Linked DNA regions of Homo sapiens. The protein of the gene in region 4 purifies or fractionates together with the protein of the main gene of each other region. This does not show direct contact. Each region holds a gene or a part of one and is shown on either strand. Other genes may lie near its edges.

Region 1 (4,887 bases), on a different chromosome or scaffold from region 4:
GATCCCTGTTTGAAAAGGGGAGGAAAAGATACTTGGGAAATTGGACTGAGAGCTTGCTTACTCCTCCGTTCAATAACTGTGACCAAGCTGAAACTCGTTAGCAACCTTTCCAGAAACGTTTTATTTACCATGTGTGTTTGTTGTGTATGCAAGAGAGGAAAAAATAAGCCAAAGTGATTAACCAATCTCTGGTTTTCCCTATTTTCTTCAAAGCTCCATTTTGAGATCTATAAGCAAGGGTTGACTCTCGAGTTCATTGGAGAAGTTACCTCGGCTCACTACAACTTCTGCCTCCTTGGTTCAAGCCATTTTCCTGCCTCAGCCTCCCGAGTAGCTGGGATTACAGGCGCCTGCCACCACACCTGGCTAATTTTTCTATTTTTAGTAGTGACAGGATTTTGCCATGTTGGTCAGGCTGGTCTCAAACTCTTAACCTCAGGTGATCCACCTGCCTTGGCCTCCCAAAGTACTGGGATTACAGGCATGAGCCACCACACCCGGTCTCCTTTTAAATATTTTTAAAGGAGTAGTTAACGTTATGGCTTTATATCCTGATTTTCAACCCTTAGCAGGGAGGCAGTGCTATGGTGCTGTGGATGGCTTAGAGTGACAGTGGCTTTGTACATTTTCTAGGTGGAGTACCTGTGCCTTATGAATCTATCTGTAAAGTCTTGGTGTACCAATTGTTGATTGTGTAAATGTCACTCTTTTGAAACAAAAACACCTAAGTGATGTGCTTTATCTTAAAGTCCTGACATACATTAGAGCTGTGGTTTTCACTGGGAGAGGGGTTTTGGCCCCCAGAGGATACTGGCAACGTATTTTTGGTTGTAGCAACTGACAGGAGGAGAGTGCTACTGCCATATAGTGGGTAGAGGCCTGGGATGCGGTTAAGCACCCTGCCATGCACGGGACACAAAAACAATTATGCAGCCCCAAACCCTGCACTACAGTATTGCCTGGGGGAGTAGGTTAACAAGATTAGGCATCTTAATCTGATTTGGATCCTCAAGAAACTTGTTTAACTGTGTTAAACAAGAGACCCTTATCATAGAAGCCGTTTTGTATGCAGCAGATTCTTTTGTCCTTGCCATTTAGAGTCTTAATATACCATAGAGGTCGAGGAACTTGTGTTCATTGACAACTTTGAGATGGATTAAAGTCATGGGATTTGGGAGCATTAGAGCACAAGGGAGCCTCAGAGATCACTTAATTTCTACCCCTTCTTTTTATAGATGTAAAAAACTGAGACACTCAGAGCTTTAGGACTCATAAGGTCTCAAGCGAGCTAAGGGCGGGCAGACAAAGTTCTAGGTACAACCCAGGAGTTAAAAATTTTAAAATAGAGATTCAGGCAAATGGGAACAAAAAACAAAACACACTGGACCTGACCTTGTGTAAAAGTTTCAAAGCACCATTCCCTGTGAGAAAATAAATAAATGCTTCGATGGGGGAGGGGTGGCATTAGCCATAGAGACTGTGGGGCACGTGCCTGGGTGCCCCAGTCCCAGAAAGGGGTAATTCCATTATATGACCTGTGACACTCCACTTCTGATGCCTGTACTGTCCTTTCCATGGCAAAGTAGGCAACAGATGGTTCCACAGACATAGCAGATGTTGCTTTTGAATCCAGGTACAAAACAGAACATTTGAGATTTTCTGTTCCTCCCTGCCTTATCGGTTAAGAGTAGAGTACATGAATGGATAGGGCTGGCTTGGACAGAAGGGAGAATTACAGAGGCCTCCTGAGTATGGAAGAAAAAAAGACACCTGGCATATATGGAAATGAGCAAGTGTTGGGGAAATTGTGGGAGAAATTCATAAGCTGATGAGGGGATATCTAATATAAATTCAATTGCATAGAACTAGGATTAAGAATCAGAAGACAATTCAAGCTTAGCTATTCTTTCAGCATGTAGAACAAAATAACTATGGGGGTAAAAGGAACCTTAGAAATCCTCTTATCTGAATCTTTTCCCTCCAACCAACTAACTGGGTTAGATAGCGGCAGAATCTGCAAGCCTCCTGTTCTATTGTACTTTCTCCTGCACCCACAGTCTCTACCATTCCATGTGTTTACCTAATGGGAAAGAAAATGATAGTAAAGAAAGTTATTGTTAATTACTTGGGAGAGTTTAAAAAGCATGGTATTTGTGAATGGCTGTTTATAGAAAGGAGTTACCTTAATGAGTTTATGATTATCAGAAAAGTTGTACACCATAGCCTGATTAATTACAAACATGTATACTCTCCTGTTTACATTGCTATGGTTAGCCATTAGGCTCATGATTATAGATTCTAGTTCTGGGTGCCAAGCTGTCCTCCTGTGGTAGTTATTTTATCTAATACTCAAATCTGACAGGTTCTGGCCATATAGGAAAGTTTTTAGTATGCCTTTGGTGGGAGACATAAAACCTCTGAAAAGTGTTAAGATAGTTTCTTATCATTTTGACAACTAGCCAAAGGGTGCACCTCAAAGCCAAGTACATAGTGATATATTTAGAAATGACTCAAGAGTGATAGCCCTTTTAAGGGATCTGCCCCCCCGCAGGTACTATGCAAAAGGGGTGTAGCAGTCTTTTCATTATCATCTTTCATCTGGCCATTCTTGTTACTGTTTTTCAGATGATGGGAGAGGAGACAGGAGTAGTTTTTAAAAAAATAACTGTTGGCTAGAAATATTTATTGGGATTTGATTAAAGTAACTTGTCTTTTAAAAATAAATGAAACCAAAATTGTTAGCTCAGATTTTCAAATCCCTTCAAAGTAAACATTTAGCAAGGCAGAACTTCTCTCTATGTTCATCCAGGAATTTGAACCTTCTGGGAGTTAATTTGCTTACAGTTGTTTTCATGACGCTTAAGGATGTTTCTTAGACATTGCAGAAAAGGAGCTTTGTGCTGTATCTGCTTTAAAGGCAAGATAGTTGTCTATAGCAGCTAGTGGTCAATAAGAGAAACCCAAGTGTAAAAATCATTTTACTGTTGTGTGGGAAACTAGAGGTTGTAGGTAATTGCTATACAAAGAAACAGATTAATAAGATATAGAGTAACAGGGTTAGTCAAAAAGTTTTTGAGAGGATTTTTACAGGAGATACTTGTTTAGTGTGTTAGGTTGATTTTATTAGATGAAGTGCTTTTCCTTACTTTACAAAGTAAAAGGAAAGAAAATATTGTGTATGCCACTGTTTATCGATGGCCTTAAGCCAGGTCAGCTTTTTCTGAGACTTGCTGCTAATTCAGTGGGAATTGGTGTTGATCATCTTAGAATGTTTTGTTTGCACATTGCATGTGACTGCCCTAGATGGCAGTATGTTCATGGAACTAGCCTATGAAATAGCAAAAAAGTTAAAGATTACAAGAGTTTTCCAAGATTTCTTTCTTGACCACCCTACTGCTAAAACAAGGAAAGATAAAGGCAAAAGAAACCCAGCTCCTACATTCTTTTGACCAGTGCAGACCCAGTGTGAATAGTGCCGCACAGCCAAGAGATATTCAGAGGGGATTGAGAAGTGATGTCTGGCTGCCTCACTGCTTACGTCATTGCAGAAGTAGCTTTTCAAAAACAGCTTAAGATTTATTAAGGAAACTGCAAGCCATGGGAATGCAGACAAAACCTTTCTTATACATCATGCTCAATCAAATACCCATATTATATTACATTACCATAACTCTGACCAGGCCTTTTTCCCACTATGTTATGCTAAAACAATTTACCATGCCTTTGGAATGTCATGGGCAACAGTCCGGTGAAATCTTTTCCCAATTAGGTAGCTGCCACCTTATCACTAAAACTATTTCTGTTCTGTGGTCATTTCCATTTCCTGCATTATGTAATGAGCACTCCTGTGTTATTTAACCAGTATCTGTGGGAGTCCAGAAAGTTGGAGCAGAAAGAACATGTAGTTCACTCTCACCATGTTGAGTATGGAGAAACTCCTGTTGAAACAAAATGAAGACAGGCGAATTGACGTGCTCCAGATCTTAGTTCTGTTAGCAGAACCAGAACTAAGATGGATCTTCTGACTTGCTTCCCTGGCAGCCTATCCAGTGTTCTTTCTACTAGATTGGCCACTGTAATAAAAATAACATCCTAACGTAACCATTTCCTTTATTAGATCTTTTGGCCAGAGTTATTAAAAAAAAAGCATTGATTAAAATTAAATTAAACTTAGTCAATTGTTTATCTTGACTTGTTCAAGTTATTTCCCTTCTTTCAAGCAGTAAGTGGTCAAAAGGTAGATAGCATGGAAGGGAAAAATTAAGTGTTTTATAATACTCATTCTGCACAATCAGCTGCTAAGTAATGAAGATATGATATTATCATAATTATTATTTTTACTTTACAATATTTTAGAAACCTACCCCACCCACTCATTTTTTTTTTTTTTTTTTTTTTTTGGAGACAGAGTTGCTCTGTCACCCAGGCTGGAGTACAGTGGTGCGATCCAGCTCACTGCAACCTCGGCCTCCCAGGTTCAAGTGATTATCCTGCCTCAGCCTCCCGAGTAGCTGGGATTACAGGCATGCACCACCACACCCAGCTAATTTCTGTACTTTAATAGTGATGGGGTTTCGCCATATTGGCCAGGGTGGTCTCAGACTCCTGACCTTTGGTGATCTGCCCACCTCAGCATCACAGAGTGCTGGAATTACAGGCATGAGCCACCGAGCCCGGCCTCATGTACTCAATTTGTGATGTAAAGCGAAATGCATTACAAACATGGAAGATGTGGTTGACCTGTGTTTGTTCCACCTCTTGTGAGCCTGTTTGTACCCTGACTATTCCCAGTTCATAAATCTTGGGTTAGGGAATGGGAATTCCAGCAAGTATTTAGGTCTGGGGAATGTTACTTTGGAAAAATTAAATATTACTCTTAAGGGAGTG
Region 2 (4,887 bases), on a different chromosome or scaffold from region 4:
TTGAACTCCTGAGCTCAAGCAAACTGCTCACCTTGGCATCCCAAAGTGCTGGGATTACAGGCGTGAGCCACCACACCCAGCCTTAGTTTCCATGTTTCTACTCCATTGTCTATTCCAATCCTTTGTGATGCAATTTCTGAATTTGCCTTGGAACAATTTTTAGGGAGACAGTTTGGTTATTTTTTTCTTCTAAGTTTATTTGCTGATAATACACTAAGTTTTAAAAAGAATGTCACCCCAACCTCATTATTCTTATGTAGCTATTTTTACTTTTCCTCATTTCTTTCCAGGCCTGATTCATTCTCATACGTATTTTTATATGATTGTAATCATAGTGTGCATATTGTTTTTTGTTCAGAGATTGAGTTGTAACTAGTGAATGCTGTCTCCCTTAGGTAGATCACCCTTGTTAGTAAAGACAAAGATTAGAGATGGAGAAAAGACAACTGGGGACTTACCAGTGAGGAGTCTTGAATCCTAAAGCTTAACTAAAATAGAAGCAGAAAAAAGCTAAGATTTTCAAAGACAGGATTACCTTTCTGTGGAAATGCAGGACAACTTTGGTTTCCTTATTCATTCCTTCCCCCTTTCTCTAACATATAACAGCTTTAGTGAGATATAATTCGCACACCATACAATTCACCCATTTAAAGTGTACAGTTCAGTGGATTTTGCTACATTCAGAACTGTAGAACCATCACCACCATTTTAGAACATTTTCATCACACCAGAAATAAACCCCTTACCATTAGCAGTTACTACCTAATTCCTCCCAATTCCCCCCTGGTCTCCCCCACCCAGCCCTAGGCAACCACTAATCTACTCTCTCTTAAGATTTGCCTCTTCTGGACATCTCATATAAATGGAATCATATAATATGTCATATTTTGTGCCTGGCTTCTTTCACCCTTATACTACTCTTAAGAATTCGTTTTCACGCCTATAATCCCAGCACCTTGGGAGGCTGAGGCGGGTGGATCACGAGGTCAGGAGATCGAGACCATCCTGGCCAACATGGTGAAACCCCGTCTCTACTAAAAATACAAAAATTAGCCAGGCATGTTGGCACACACCTGTAGTCCCAGCTACCCGGGAGGCTGAGGCAGGAGAATCGCTTGAACCTGGGAGGTGGAGGTTGCAGTGAGCCGAGATCATGTCACTGCACTCCAGCCTGGTGACAGAGTGATGCTCCGTCTCAAAAAAAAAAAAAGAAAAAAGAAAAAAGAAAAATACTGAAATACAGTCAAGGTTCCTCCTGAGATGTGCACCCTTTTTGAGCTATAAAGATATCCACTGCCTCGGGTATATATGTTCAACACCTGCACCCACTCACTAAGGAAGGAACACAAACACACTAAGACAAACTTACAAACTAAGGTAACATATACAGTGATGATAACCCCCTACAAATAAACAGTTTCATATCTGGGCATAACTAAGCATGAACATCATGATAAGTACATACAAGTGAACACAGTTCCTGAAGTGTCTGTGAGAAAGTGAATAAAAACATGGTAAACTAGAAGAAAATGAGGGCTGGGTTTGATATATATATATATAGACTTGTAGGTAAGAAGATTGTTGTATTTCCTTAACCATAGCATAGCAATTCTTTTGAGCAGGATATTATTAGTGATACTTATACAGTAGGGGATTTCCATCCATGTGGAAAATTACAGCCAACAAAATATTTTCATTCCCTGGGTGTGGTGGTAAAACTTTGATGAGGAGTTAAGGAATATTCAGAAGAAGCCCCTCAAATGTATATGAGTCTGGCTTATATTCAGGCAGCCCTTACCCTGAGGCAAACGTGACAAGATATGATACAACCCCCAAGATTTATTTTCATTCATGGTGGGCTATAATTAACCCAGGTTAATACTCTTAGGGAACTATTCTTTTTTTTTTTTTTCCTCTTTAATGTGCCCACTTGAGTGCTAGACCAGCTGAGGAGTTGGGGGTCTAATTTCACTGGAAATAGCAATAAATATGTGATGATTTCAAAGTCATGCCCACCCCACTTTTGTTTTTCTCCTGTTGTCCCTAAGATTTACAGTTTCTTGGTGAAAAATTACAGAACCCTACACAGAAATGGACCAAGGCAGATGTGTAGGATTTCACCTCTGCAAGGCCTTCGGGGCAGGTGGGCTCTTCTGTTAGTCCTCAGCACACCCTCTGTGCTTGCCTTTCCTCTGCCACTTTTCTTGAACCCCCATTATTATTCCTTGTCAAGTCATCTCACTTCCTGCTTTCCTTAGACATTGGCCAGCATTCCAAGTGATATAGTGTGCCCTCCACCAGAGAATAGCTGGCACTGCTTTAAGCCCCTTAGCCTTCCCTCCTACCTCAGAAGAAACTGTTTCCTCTTTTCTTCTCCCACTGCCTGAATCTGGTATAGCACACAAGGGGAGCCTCTGCAGAAATGTTACTTGAACTGGTCCCTGAAAGATGTGAAAGGATTTGAACATGAGAAAGAGTGCAAAAGGACATTTCCTGTGTAATGAACCGTGTGATGTAAGGGCTGCAGGCGGAAGAGCATGGAGGCGTACTTACTTCTGTGTAACACAGGGTGTGTGAAGATCGCTCCTTTCCCTTTACTTTTCTTCTTCTTGCCCTGGATTCCCTCCCAGCTCCAACCTTTTTCAGCCTGTGCTTTGATCTCTTTGTTTAGTATATACTTCTCCACTCCTCTCTGTGTAGCTAATTCTGTCCCTCCCTGACCACCCACAGTGATCTCTGAATTTCTGTACACTAATAGCCAGTACCATTCTTTTGGCAGTTAATTATATATTTTCTTGAAAAAAACAAAAAGCACTTTATGTGCATGTCTCATTTTCCCAAATAGAGTATGTTAGTCAAGGTGTTTAGGTCTCCGGGAACACAAACCCACTTAAGCTATCTTGCTAGATGGTATGGTGGCAGAGCTGGGAGTTGTACTGCATTACTATTGTAAGGCTGCTGAGGTCCGTGAAATGACCTACCACTGGTACCCAGAGCAGACACTTTGAAAGTCTCTGTCCTCTCTCTGCTTGTAGGGCTCTCTTTGGCTTCTTTCTGTGCCTCTGCTCCATTTTAGGACATTAATTTTAATTTTTAAAAAATAGTATGCATTACTGTGTAATTTATCTTGATTGCTGAGCTTTTTTGCACCCTATTAAATACTGAGACACCCTGAGGCAGGTGCCTCCTTTACTTTTTCCCTGTAGCCCCAGCCCTGCTTCATTCTCTTCCCTGCAGACTGACCTTCTGTGCTTTCCCCTTAGCTTCAGCTTCAAGGTGACTAGCTTGTTATGGTAGTGCCTCCAGACTTGGTGATACCTTATGTCTCAACTTGAGTTTTGTCTCCCAGCTTTCCAGATTTCTGGAGAAGAATTGAATTTGATCCGTCCTGGTTAGATTGAGAGTGGTGACCCCTGTACCAAACAGCTGTGAAAGATGTGGCTTTGTTATGTTGTTTCTTTGGCTGTATATTTCACAGGGACTGGAATAAGGGGTGGGTCCCCCCACACAAGGAGGTTTGGGGTTGTTCATCTCAAAACATGCTTATTTTGATGTCAGAAGGAAGTGACCATGCCTTCTCTTTTTTGGTATGTTCCCTGCATCTGGCAGATTGACAGCTAAGAAATAGGTGTATCTCTCTTTTTTTTTTTTTCCATTTTGTTTGAGACTGGGTCTCACTCTGTTGCCTAGGCTGGAGTGCAGGTGTGATCATAGGTCCCTGCAACCTCCGCCTCCCAGGCTCAAGCAATCCTCCCACCTTAGCTGCCCAAGTAGCTGGAACTAAAGGCACGTGCCACCATGCCTGGCTAATTTTTTGTAATTTTTATAGAGATGGGGTCTCTTTATGTTACCCAGGCTAGTCTCAAACTCCTGGGCTCAAGCAGTCCTCCTGCCTTGGCCTCCCAAATTGCTGGGATTACAGAGGTGAGCCACCACACTCAGTCTTCTCTTATTTGGTGTCTATTTATTCCTATGACTTGCCATTTGACCATTAGGATTAACTTTTAGGTATAATAGTCAATTCAGAGCAATTTTTTTTTTCGAGACAGGCTTTCGCTGTCATCCAGGCTGGCGTGCAGGTGTGATCATAGCTCACTGCAGCCTTGAACTCCTGAGCTCAAACAATCCTCCTGCCTCAGTCTCCCAAGTAGCTGGGACTACAATTTGTACACCACCACACCTGGCTAATTTTTCTAGTGAGCAATATTTTTAATACTTAAAATGAATTACTAAAATTTGTGTTATCATTTGGAAATTTTCTAATTTTATAGCAGATTAAATATTTTTTAAACATTTCTTTTTGGAATTTGTTTCTCAGTTCAGAAAGAATAGGGGAGTAGAATATTGATAATCAAAGAGTGACAATACAGTACAACTTTACTGACTCCGCTCCCAGCCCCATTAGGATATGATAAAACCAAGTTCTCACATCATTGACCTCAATGCTTACTGAGTCCCCTTATATTACTTTATTTTATGTTAATTTAGTGTCTACCATGTTGCAGGCACTATATTAGGGGCTGATAATGTAAAAATAGGTCCTTGCCCTCAAAGTGCTCACAATCTATGGTGGAAATAGATTGTGGTCTCTCTGTCAGAGACATGGAGACTGATTATGGTCTGGTGAGATAAATATTGATAGAAGTGTGGGCAAAGTGGTGGGCTAGCACCTCTCTTCTATTGTTTTCTTTGTGTACATCGATCTCTCACTCTTCTGTATTCTCTTTAGTTTCCAACTCTCTCAGTCTCTGCGCTTAATTGCTTATGTTATGTGGATCAGAGTATAGTATGAATAATATCTCATTTACTTAATGTGAACTAATGAAGTGTTCCTTAAAAATGAAGATAATATTTAATGAAGATAATGACTATTAGCTAACATTGATC
Region 3 (4,887 bases), on a different chromosome or scaffold from region 4:
TGCATTCAGGCGATCCTCCTGCCTCAGCCTCCCAAAGTGCTGGGATTAGAGGCGTGAGCCACCATGCCTGGCACATGCCTGAATCCTTTTGAGGGAGCCTCTGCAGAGAAGAGAGCATATTTCTACCAGGCGGGGGCCTGGTAGGTGCTTAGTGCAGGAACCGCCCTGAGCTGCTGCTTCTCAGTGGCACCTGGGGGCAGCCCTGCCTGTTAGGCACAGGCTGAGAGGTAGGGCAGGAGGAGTTCCATCTCTTCTGGCAGGCTCTTCTTGAACAAGCGCCTCCGGTGATTCTTGTGCACCCTGAAGTTAGGGAGCTCTTTCCTGCTCATGATTTCTGGCAGGGTGGCCAAGCCACTAGTGGTCACCTGGGAGTGAAATGTGCCCCGACGGACCTTGCCTGATAACTCTTCCATCTCAGTGTAGTTTAAATCTGTTCTTGCAATCTGTATGGACACTCTAGGTAGCCTTCTGGCATTGCTACTGCAGCAGCCTTGGAACGTGATTTGGGACACAACACAGCTCAATTTCAGGCACAGTGGTTGGCTTTTAAAGTGCTGTTTTTTTGGAGAGGGAGTCTCTCGCTCTGTCACCCAGGCTGGAGTGCAGTGGCACGATCTTGGCTCACTGCAGCCTTTGCCTTTGGGTTCAAGTGATTCTCATGCCTCAGCCTCCCAAGTAGCTGGGATTACAGGCACTTACCACCACGCCCGGCTAATTTTTGTATTGAAATTCTTTATCCTTAAACAAATTATTAGTATACACAAACAGCTTAAATAATGAAGCAGAACAAAAAATGAAAATTCGATTTGAAGTGCATTCCTTCCCTAAACCTCCTTCTCCAGAAGCGTATCTAAGCCAGCCCCAATTTGCAGATTGGCTTGTATCCTTCCACATGCTTTCCCATCCATTCATGAACATAGAAAGATGTGTAAAAAGGTTTTCCTCCAATTACATGGAATTACAAATTTTCTGACTTTTTTCATTTAACTGTATCATAGCTAGCTAGCTTTCTTTCTTTTTTTTTTTTTTGTTTCGAGACGGAGTTTTACTCTTGTTGCCCAGGCTGGATTACAATGGCGCGATCTCAGCTCACCACAACCTCCACCTCCCAGGTTGAGGCAATTCTTCTGCCCCAGCCTCCCGAGTAGCTGGGATTACAGGCATGCGCCACCACGCCTGGCTAATTTATTTTGTATTTTTAATAGAGACAGGGTTTCTCCATGTTGGTCAGGGTGGTCTCGAACTCCTGACCTCAGGTGACCCGCCCACCTCGGCCTCCCAAAGTGCTGGGATTACAGGCATGAGCCACTGCGCACGGCTATCGTAGCTTCATAGCTAGCTTTCTATGCCACCACATACATCCACCTTATTCTTTTTTTTTTTTTTTTTTTTTTGTGAGACAGTCTCGCTCTGTCATCCAGGCTGGAGTGCAGTGGCATGATCTTGGCTCACTGCAACCTCTGCCTCCTGGTTTAAGCTTGTGCCTCAGCCTCTCAAGTAGCTGGCATTACAGGCGTGCACCATCACACCTGGGTGATTTTTTTTTTTTATTTTTTTTTTATTTTTAGTAGAGACGGGGTTTTGCCATGTTGGCCAGGTTGATCTGGAAGTCCTGGCCTGAAGTGATCCGCCCACCTCAGCCTCCCAAAGTGCTGGGATTACAGGCATGAGCCACCCACCTTATTCTTTTTGATTACCATATGGTACTCCTTAGTTTGCAAGTATAGTACCTTAATTTTTATTCATTCATTTTCCTTTTGATGGACTTTTAGGTTGCTTCTGGGTTTTGTGTTACAAATACTGCTGCAGTGAGCATCCTCATATACACATCTTTGAGTAGTGCCTTGGTTGCTACAGTGGGGCAGGTTCCTAGAAGTGGAATTGCCACTAGGGTTAATGCTGGGTTAATTGCTCTCCAAAAAGAGTGTACCTGTAGTACTCCCCCTTGGCGTGAACAAGAGTGACTGTTTTCCACACCCTCACTGACACTGGATATTATTTACGTTTTTGCCAGACTGCTGGTTAAGTGAGCTTCTGAAACACAGATGTGGTAGTCACTCAACAGTGGCTCTTGGTGGCCCTTAGAATAAAATCCATGCATGGTATTGAGGTCAGAAGCAACCAGTGCTTCTGATGGCACTTGGTCTCCTCAGCCTGAGATCAGCTCTCCTTAGGCCGAGGTGGGAGCAGGCAGGGAGTGGAGGTCATTGCTAGTTGAGGGTCTCCCCAACTCCCCCACTCTTGGTGATGCTGCAACAGTGAGCCTGCAGAGGGAGCTCTTACTTCCTGGTTGCATTGTAATGAGTTCCTATTGTCAGATTCCAAGTTTCTACTTTTTTCCCCATTGCTAAATAATACTTTGATGCTCATTGCTCATTCACTCATCAAACACATTTATATTGAATGCCTATTATGTGCCAGGGCTTAGCATCTTTATATACGTAACTTTTTCCATATTTTGGATAAATTTATGCATGACAGGCTCTGGGGTGCTTTGAATTCAAAGAGGTGATTTTGGGGGTAGGTGTATGGGGTAGGGTGGGGTGGGGGCACGGTGAGCACAGCAGCTGTCATTGCCATTCAGCTGATGAGCCAAGAAGGATGTGTACCCCCAAGACAGAGGTTACGTAAGTATTATGCAGACTGTGCTGGGTGATAGATACACTATCCTTCCCCTCTGTGCTTCCAGTATGGGCCGGATTTTCATTCCTCAGCTGGAATGGGGCTTGCATAATTTGTTCAAGGTCAGCCAAGGAAAGGTTGGGTAGGTAGACTGGCAGGCTGTGGAGGGGAACCAGGGACTCCTGTATCCTGGTGTGACTTGCTGGTCCTTCTCAAAGTCTTCAGTGACTGCAGGCAGGTCTGCTCAGCCTGGCCCTGCCCATCCCTCTGTTTCCTACCAACCAGTGGGAACAAAGCCCCCAGGCTCTGCCCTGAAGCCATCACTCAGGCAGAGAGGCCTGTGGTTCTGACTCCCCCAGGACGCCCTCTGACTTCTGTCTGTCCAGGGCTAGCTGCTTTGCCGATGCCAGACTGCCCTGCTTCATGCGCAGCCTCTAGAGGCTCAGCTTGTGAAGGCCCCTGGGGGGTGGATGCTGCAGAGACAGCTGTGTATCAGTAGCTAACTGTACAGGCTCCGATTTGGAGCAGATCTGGGTGGAAGGAGTGACTGGGAGGGGTGGGGGCCAGGGTTCAGCCTTCAAGTCAGCACCCTGGCAGGGTGTTAAGTGAAAGCAGGCTTTGTTGCCGACTTTTCTTTCCTCCAGTCCTCGCCTTAGAAAATTAATGCAGATTATTATTTCTATCATAAAATTGTCTCTGAAATGGGTTCGAGAGCTGTGTAAAAATGGGCATTTTGGGGGTGCTGTCTGTAGCTGTAAGAAAGCTGAACTTCTCGGAGCGGCAGAGCTGTCTCGGGCCTTCCTTAGTTCCGTCAGATCAGTGCAGCAGGGGATGGGCCGAAGTGCACAAAAAGGAGGGGAAGCTACCACTACCTGGCAGTTGGGGGCCTTTAGTGAAAGGGTGAGTCATCCTTTTGCTGTCCTCGGTGGTGTCACTTCAGGCCCAGGAGTGGACTTGACTCCATTCAGCCAGTGGTTTCTGTGAGTCTTCCTTGCCAGGTGCTATGCTGGGGAGAATGCTTACTTGGGGGCCCAGAACGGGGGAGATTATGCTTCATTGTCGGTGTTCAAGGAGATGGGGAAGAGAGCAAGACACAGATGAGAAAGCCAGCATCCAGTATGTTTACAGTGAGGCATTGGATAGGGATATGTTTTAGTGAACCAGCAAGTTCACTTGCGTGCTGCTGGTACCAACTACATGGTTGTGTTGTGGAACCCCACAGCCCCAAAAGAGCTTGGCCGTGTCGGAGCTCCTAGAGGCCCCAGGAGGGGTCCGGTCTGCTCTTCTGAGCTCTGCTCTCTGAGTGCCTTGTCCTTGGGTGGTAATCTCTTTAGTGGCCTTGTACTTCAGGCTGATGTTTGCTGTGGGTGGGGTGTTTTTTGACAGGTGGCTGTGCTTGTTGGATTTTGGGGATTAGCGATGAGAGAGGGCATTTGGGGAACATTTAATGGATGAGTGCTCTGCCTTTATCCTGAGCGGGGACCAGTCCAGATGTGAAGGCTGCTGTGTCTGGGAGGCGTCTCTTCTGTGGGGTCAGGGGAGAGTCGTGGGGAAGGCTCTGGCTCCTAAGGTCCAGGGAGGTCTTAGGTGACCCACAGATATTACCACTGGACTGCTTCTCCTTCTGCTTCCCCAGCCCCCACCCCGGCTGAGTTTGTGGCCCCCCTGGGAGGCATAGCACTGAAGAGGGGTACTTGGTTCACTGATGGTTTGTTAACCCTGTCGGGTGGAGAATGTTCTGGGCCCGTTACTGTTATGTTCTGTGTCTGCCTGGGGTTACATTGCCTCAGCTTTCAATCCAGAGTTGTTCTCCTAGGAAGGTGTCAGGTAAAGGGTATTTCTTGAGGTTCTGGTGGGTGGTTTCCTGGTCTATCCCGGGGGGATGCACCTACAGGGTTAGTTTGGGAGGGAGGAACAAGTGGGGAGAGGGGAGCCCCCAGACTGGAAAGAGCCAGTGGCGGGCAGTGTAAAATGGATCTTCCCCCCTCATCTCTCTACCCTGATACTAATGTGGGCTGACCTGTCCATGGTTTCAGCCTGATCATGTGCAAGAAATAACACAGCAGCGACAAAAATAGGACAGAGTAAACAGCTCGCTGCTCTTCTGTCTGTGCTCTGACACAAAAGTGAGCTGGGATAAAATTAACAAAGCATCTGGAAAAAGTAAAGTAGGACCTGGATCACAACTTCACAATTTAAAATTGTAGAAGTTTATACTGTTTCTTTTACAACATACTCAGTGAGTCTGTGGCCTCCTGCAATGCC
Region 4 (4,887 bases):
AAAATGCACCTCAGCAGGCATTTTTGTAGAAACACATGTAATTGTCTCCATTTGCCATTTTCTTGATAGCATGATTACCAGTTAGTCATTCCTTAGCAAGACGCAAAAGTGATTCAGAGATGGGCATGAAAAGAGATTTGCTAGTTCCCCATTTGCCTGTAGTCTATCACATGTCTCAGAAATGTGGTCGGGGGACAGGAAAAATGCTGATAGAGTGGTATGCAAATAGCATGGTAGGACTAAGGAGGAGGTTAGAAAGATGCTGCCAAAGAATTTTCAGACTTCAAAAGGGCGTTTTCTGCGTTAAGTTCTCTTAGGGCCTGAGAAGATACCATTAGCTCCTTACTGAAAGTCCTTCATCTGTCAGGCTAATCCAAGTTTGCTATTGGAGAGATGCCCATAAGTCCTGAGTAGATGGGTAGTTTAAAGAGAAACTTTTGGCACAGGCTTAACTTATGAGAACCACTACAACATCTCAGTTCTAGTATTGGTTCCTCTGCTTAAGTAACCCTGACCTTTTTGAGGAAATCATCAGCTTTTGACTTCATCTGTTGAGTGAAGAACGGACATTGGTAATGCTTCTCCGATGTCCCACAGTGGTTAAGACGTCCAAATGAGATGAAGCTGTTTGCTCCCTCTTCCCTGCAGATTCTATACCCTGAACTGCCTATCATTTGAGTCCTCTGGACATTATGCTCATCTTGGCTGGTATCCTCCACTTCTTACCTAGTATCCCTAATGATCTCTTCCTTTCTCGTATTTAAGGACCCTTGAGTGATATCTTCTCGCTCCTGGTTATTTCTAGAGCCCTGAGCCGTGTCCAGTGAATACTGGTCTATCCCAATGTTGTCTGAATTTTTACTTTGATGATCACAGACTAAGAGGACACAAATATAAGGAAGTGGAATAAGATGGGCCATCAGTGGTACAAGGCACCAGGAAATCCAAAGATCCACTTGAGCATAAGACCAGTGAGAAAGTGCTGACAACAGAAAGCCCTTAAGTAATTGAGGCAGCTTCTCTGCCTCCAGCCAAAAGCATGGAATGAACCCCGGAACGTCATGCCTGGGCCTTGTAGGAAGGGCAAGGAAGGCAGGAACACCTGGCTGTGGTTCCTGTTGGTATTGAAACCAGACTGCTCCACGGAGCTCGCCTCTCACCTCTTTGCTTCTGTCTTTAGTGCTCCCAGCTGTAACCGACCCTAGTTGCATCCCTAACTTCCTTACCCCCAGGCCTCCACCTGTAACCTCTTCCCCAGCTCCCCCATCCCTGTACCGGATAGGGAGCTTTCTTGATCCAACATTGACAATTTGCAGGGGCCAGCTCTAAGATGAGGCCCAGAGTACAGCAGAACACTCTAGCACAGATAGGTTCTAGCTAGGGAAAGCCACTTGCACAGACAGAGGAGATGTCAGAGCATGTTTTGTGGTAAGGACCCACTCTGCTTCTCACCCCAAACTCATAATTGGCAGGCTGTGGGTAAGGCTATGGGAGCGGGGTCGGGGGGAAACTATGACCTGGGCTGTGAGGGAGGGGTGATGAGGTTGTTCCCTGTGTTGTTCTTCCCTGTGTTGTTGCTATGGAAACCTTTGAGAATCTGATAAAAACTGTGAACCCTTAAGGTCCCTTTGTAAACCCACGCTTCATGATTGACAGGTAAGAGACCTTTGAGCTGGGGCATGTAAGATGGGGAGTGGGGTCAGATCTGGATTCCCATAGAAGACAAGGGTGGATGGGATCAGAACATGAGTGGAGGTGTCCATGATCTGGAAGGAAGAAAAGAGGGGGTAAATACACAGATATATAGGTGGAGATTGCGTCATATGACCTCCATTTCAAAGAAAAAGAGGTCATTTCCAGAAAAGAAGCAATTTTCTATGGGGAGCTCGTGGGGGCTAGAGAAATCCAGGAATGGCTGCTATTAAGTGTACGTAAAAAGAACACCCAGAAGTTAATAAAAGGCTTGCTAAGCAGCAGTAAGGGAATAGTTGAAGGAAAATACATTTTTAAAAGATTTTAGTATATCGGGCACTCATTTTAGTACATGGCTTTTCTTTGAAAATATATGTATATGTATAAATGATGTATAACTTGAAGATAAATTGCTTTTTGATGGTATCCTGAGGCTTCTGGCATTGTTTTGTGAATACTCCATGAAAGCACTTGACTAAAAGGGAATAATCTCACTTGGAGAGAAACATATTAAGCAGGAATATATAATTAGTTCCTCTGACACCCACATATAACATTCCCCCTCGCTTGTCTCAAGATACATTGCTGGGGAACCAGGCTGACTTCACCTTGTGCTGAAGACCAGAAGGACCAAGGCAAAGTGCCCAAGAGGGCCAAGGACCAGTTGGCATCAAAGATATTAGTTCCACTGGGGTCAGGAGGACCAGTCTAAGCCAGAATGGATATCAGTTACAAAAATGGGCTAAGTTGTGCATGACAGCCAGGTGAGTAAAGAAGAAACAGCAAAAATCAGAAGTCAGGCAGAGCTTAGTGAAGTAGTGTATGGATGAATAAGGTGAAGTCTGGGAGAGCACATGGCCCAGTGTTAGGAAGAAATAGACCTCTATGTGAGCAAACTTTGGTAGCTCAAGTAAAGGGCCAGGATTGTAAGACACAGATTAACGAACGGATGAAATCACAGGGATATCCAAGAGCAGAAGCCCAAATAGGACCAGGGCCCAAAGAGAGTAGAGTTAGAGTCAAGGTGGGTGAGAGGATCCCAGCCGCGGTCCATGGATATTTACTCCATCCCTTTCCACTAGTGTGACTCAGCTCAGCGCACGTGTCTGCCTCTTTCTGTTGTTCTATCAACTGGAAAATTTCTTCTGTGTTTCCAGGTCCAGTCCTGAGAGAGGAGATCTGATTGGTTCAGTCAAAGACTATTGTCTTTGGCAAATCCTTTAGTAGGAGGAGGACATCAAAGGCACAGGCGCGCCTAAGGATGAATTACTCTAATCCAGGCAGTGGTCACCCCTGGGCAAAGAAGAGCTCAATGGGTAATTTTAGTTAGAAGAGAAATTGAGCATGGAAGGCAAATTAGCTGAAATGTCCAACAGCTCTCAATGGGAATCATTTGAATTTTGAGGTGAATAAACTCCTAGAGAGGCAAACACCCAATGAATGATCACACAGTTCTTGATGATCACTGTGACCCACTGAGCCAGTGTTAAGGGAGATTAATCTAGAAGTTTGCACCACTGGTAACTGAAAGGATAAGAATCATCCATCTCAGAAAGATTTTGGGAAAAAACATTCTGGATATTATTGTTGGCAAGAAACTTCATATGAATCTTCCATGTGATATGGCTCCCTTCAAATGAAAGCAGTCTTGAAGATTTAATATGTAATCATTTAACAATTTTAATAAATAAAAACAAGCACAACTCAATGTAAACCACAGTACATAATAAGGTGAATGCATAAAAGCTGGTGTACTCTTAATCACTGGAAGTTTCAGATCTAAGCAATATTTGCTATGTAATTTTTAATCCATTGAGCACCCATCATGGTGTTTGTCAAGTGGACTAAAATATCCCCTGAGTTCTGCATAGTTCGGATCCCATTTGGGAACTTGTGCTCTGTTCTGGGCTCATTTTTCTGAAAGGCATGGATACATATGCATTCTAGGGTTAGCATCAAAGGCTGGAGGGAGTCAGGAGGCAAAACATATGCTGAACCGATAAGGGATCTAGAGCTGTTTATCCCAAAGAAAAGAAAATGAGGCCACATAAATATCTTCTAATATTTGGGGTACTTTTATATGAACATGGGAGAAGGCATTTGTGTTTCTCAAGGCAGCAGAACAGAACTGAATATATAAATTCATAGAATTTTTAAGCTGGGCAAGACCTTAGGAGCTCATTCAGCCCAAGGAGTACATATAACTTTTCATCTGTATGCCAGCTCCAACCAATTGGCATGTTAAGAAGGATTCTGAGGATGAATCTAAGCTCAGAGGGGAGGGGAAAATGTGGTCACTGATAGTGATATCTGTTGTGGAAGAGAAGGGCCATATCTACTCAAGTACCATGTTTTAGTCTTCATTAATGTGGTCTGTAGGTTTTTAACCTCTGGGTGGTGGATCCCTGGGAGGCCACAAAGTCATTGCAAGAGGTAAACAAATCTGTATATGCAGCAAGTGCTTTTGGCAAGCTACTCTGAGTAAATAATATATCTTACATCATATGTGCTACTATTTTTCTAATTCTATACATACATTATAATGATAAAATGCTAATTTATTTAAAAGAGTTATTGAATTCATAGTAGCTTTTAAGTTTGTGTTTTTGTGTTTTATTAATGAGTGGACTTAAAACATATAATTATATTATGTGTGGGAAGGTTGGGACAGGAAATTTGGGATCTTAAGTAGAAATTCTTTTTAAAATATGAACCAGTGATCTATTTTTTATTCTCCAAAGCCTAGCCACACCAAGTAAAATTATGTATGTATTTGTAGGTTTCTTCGATTAATGTCTGCCCTGTCTTATTGGTCTGTCAGATATATAAGGACAGGAACCTCTATTTTTTTTTCATTCGTATATACCCAGTGCGTGGCACACGGCAGAATCTCAATAAATATTTGTTGAATGAAATAACAAACCAAGTGACTTGACCAAAGTCATCCAGTTAATTAGTGGTAAGATAGTTCCAAAACACACAGCTCCTAAGTTCCAAGCAGTTAACCTTTTCAATATACCACATTACTTCCCCTGATAGTAAGAGAGCATGTTTTAACAGTTAGCAAATTTAGGTTATACAATGCTGCCCAATCTGCCTATATACCCATGCATCTTAACCAGTATCTTAATCAGAATCAACTGTAGAGCTTTTTGAAAATACACATCCCTGAGACCTATCCTCTAGAGATTCTGA

Evidence for each region.
Region 1: the proteins of CALD1 (region 4) and PHLDB2 purify together in Homo sapiens (affinity purification with mass spectrometry; one large-scale study listed by BioGRID and IntAct). This does not show direct contact.
Region 2: the proteins of CALD1 (region 4) and TMOD3 purify together in Homo sapiens (affinity purification with mass spectrometry; one large-scale study listed by BioGRID and IntAct). This does not show direct contact.
Region 3: the proteins of CALD1 (region 4) and VDAC1 purify together in Homo sapiens (affinity purification with mass spectrometry; one large-scale study listed by BioGRID and IntAct). This does not show direct contact.

The regions. Positions count from the first base shown.
Region 1 is NC_000003.12:111,861,639-111,866,525, forward strand, and holds part of PHLDB2 (pleckstrin homology-like domain family B member 2), read left to right. Parts: intron 1-4,887. UniProt on the Homo sapiens protein: Seems to be involved in the assembly of the postsynaptic apparatus. May play a role in acetyl-choline receptor (AChR) aggregation in the postsynaptic membrane.
Region 2 is NC_000015.10:51,835,527-51,840,413, forward strand, and holds part of TMOD3 (tropomodulin-3), read left to right. Parts: intron 1-4,887. UniProt on the Homo sapiens protein: Blocks the elongation and depolymerization of the actin filaments at the pointed end. The Tmod/TM complex contributes to the formation of the short actin protofilament, which in turn defines the geometry of the membrane skeleton.
Region 3 is NC_000005.10:133,994,215-133,999,101, reverse strand, and holds part of VDAC1 (non-selective voltage-gated ion channel VDAC1), read left to right. Parts: intron 1-4,887. UniProt on the Homo sapiens protein: Non-selective voltage-gated ion channel that mediates the transport of anions and cations through the mitochondrion outer membrane and plasma membrane.
Region 4 is NC_000007.14:134,782,061-134,786,947, forward strand, and holds part of CALD1 (caldesmon), read left to right. Parts: intron 1-2,269; exon of another isoform or gene 2,270-2,456; intron 2,457-4,887. UniProt on the Homo sapiens protein: Actin- and myosin-binding protein implicated in the regulation of actomyosin interactions in smooth muscle and nonmuscle cells (could act as a bridge between myosin and actin filaments).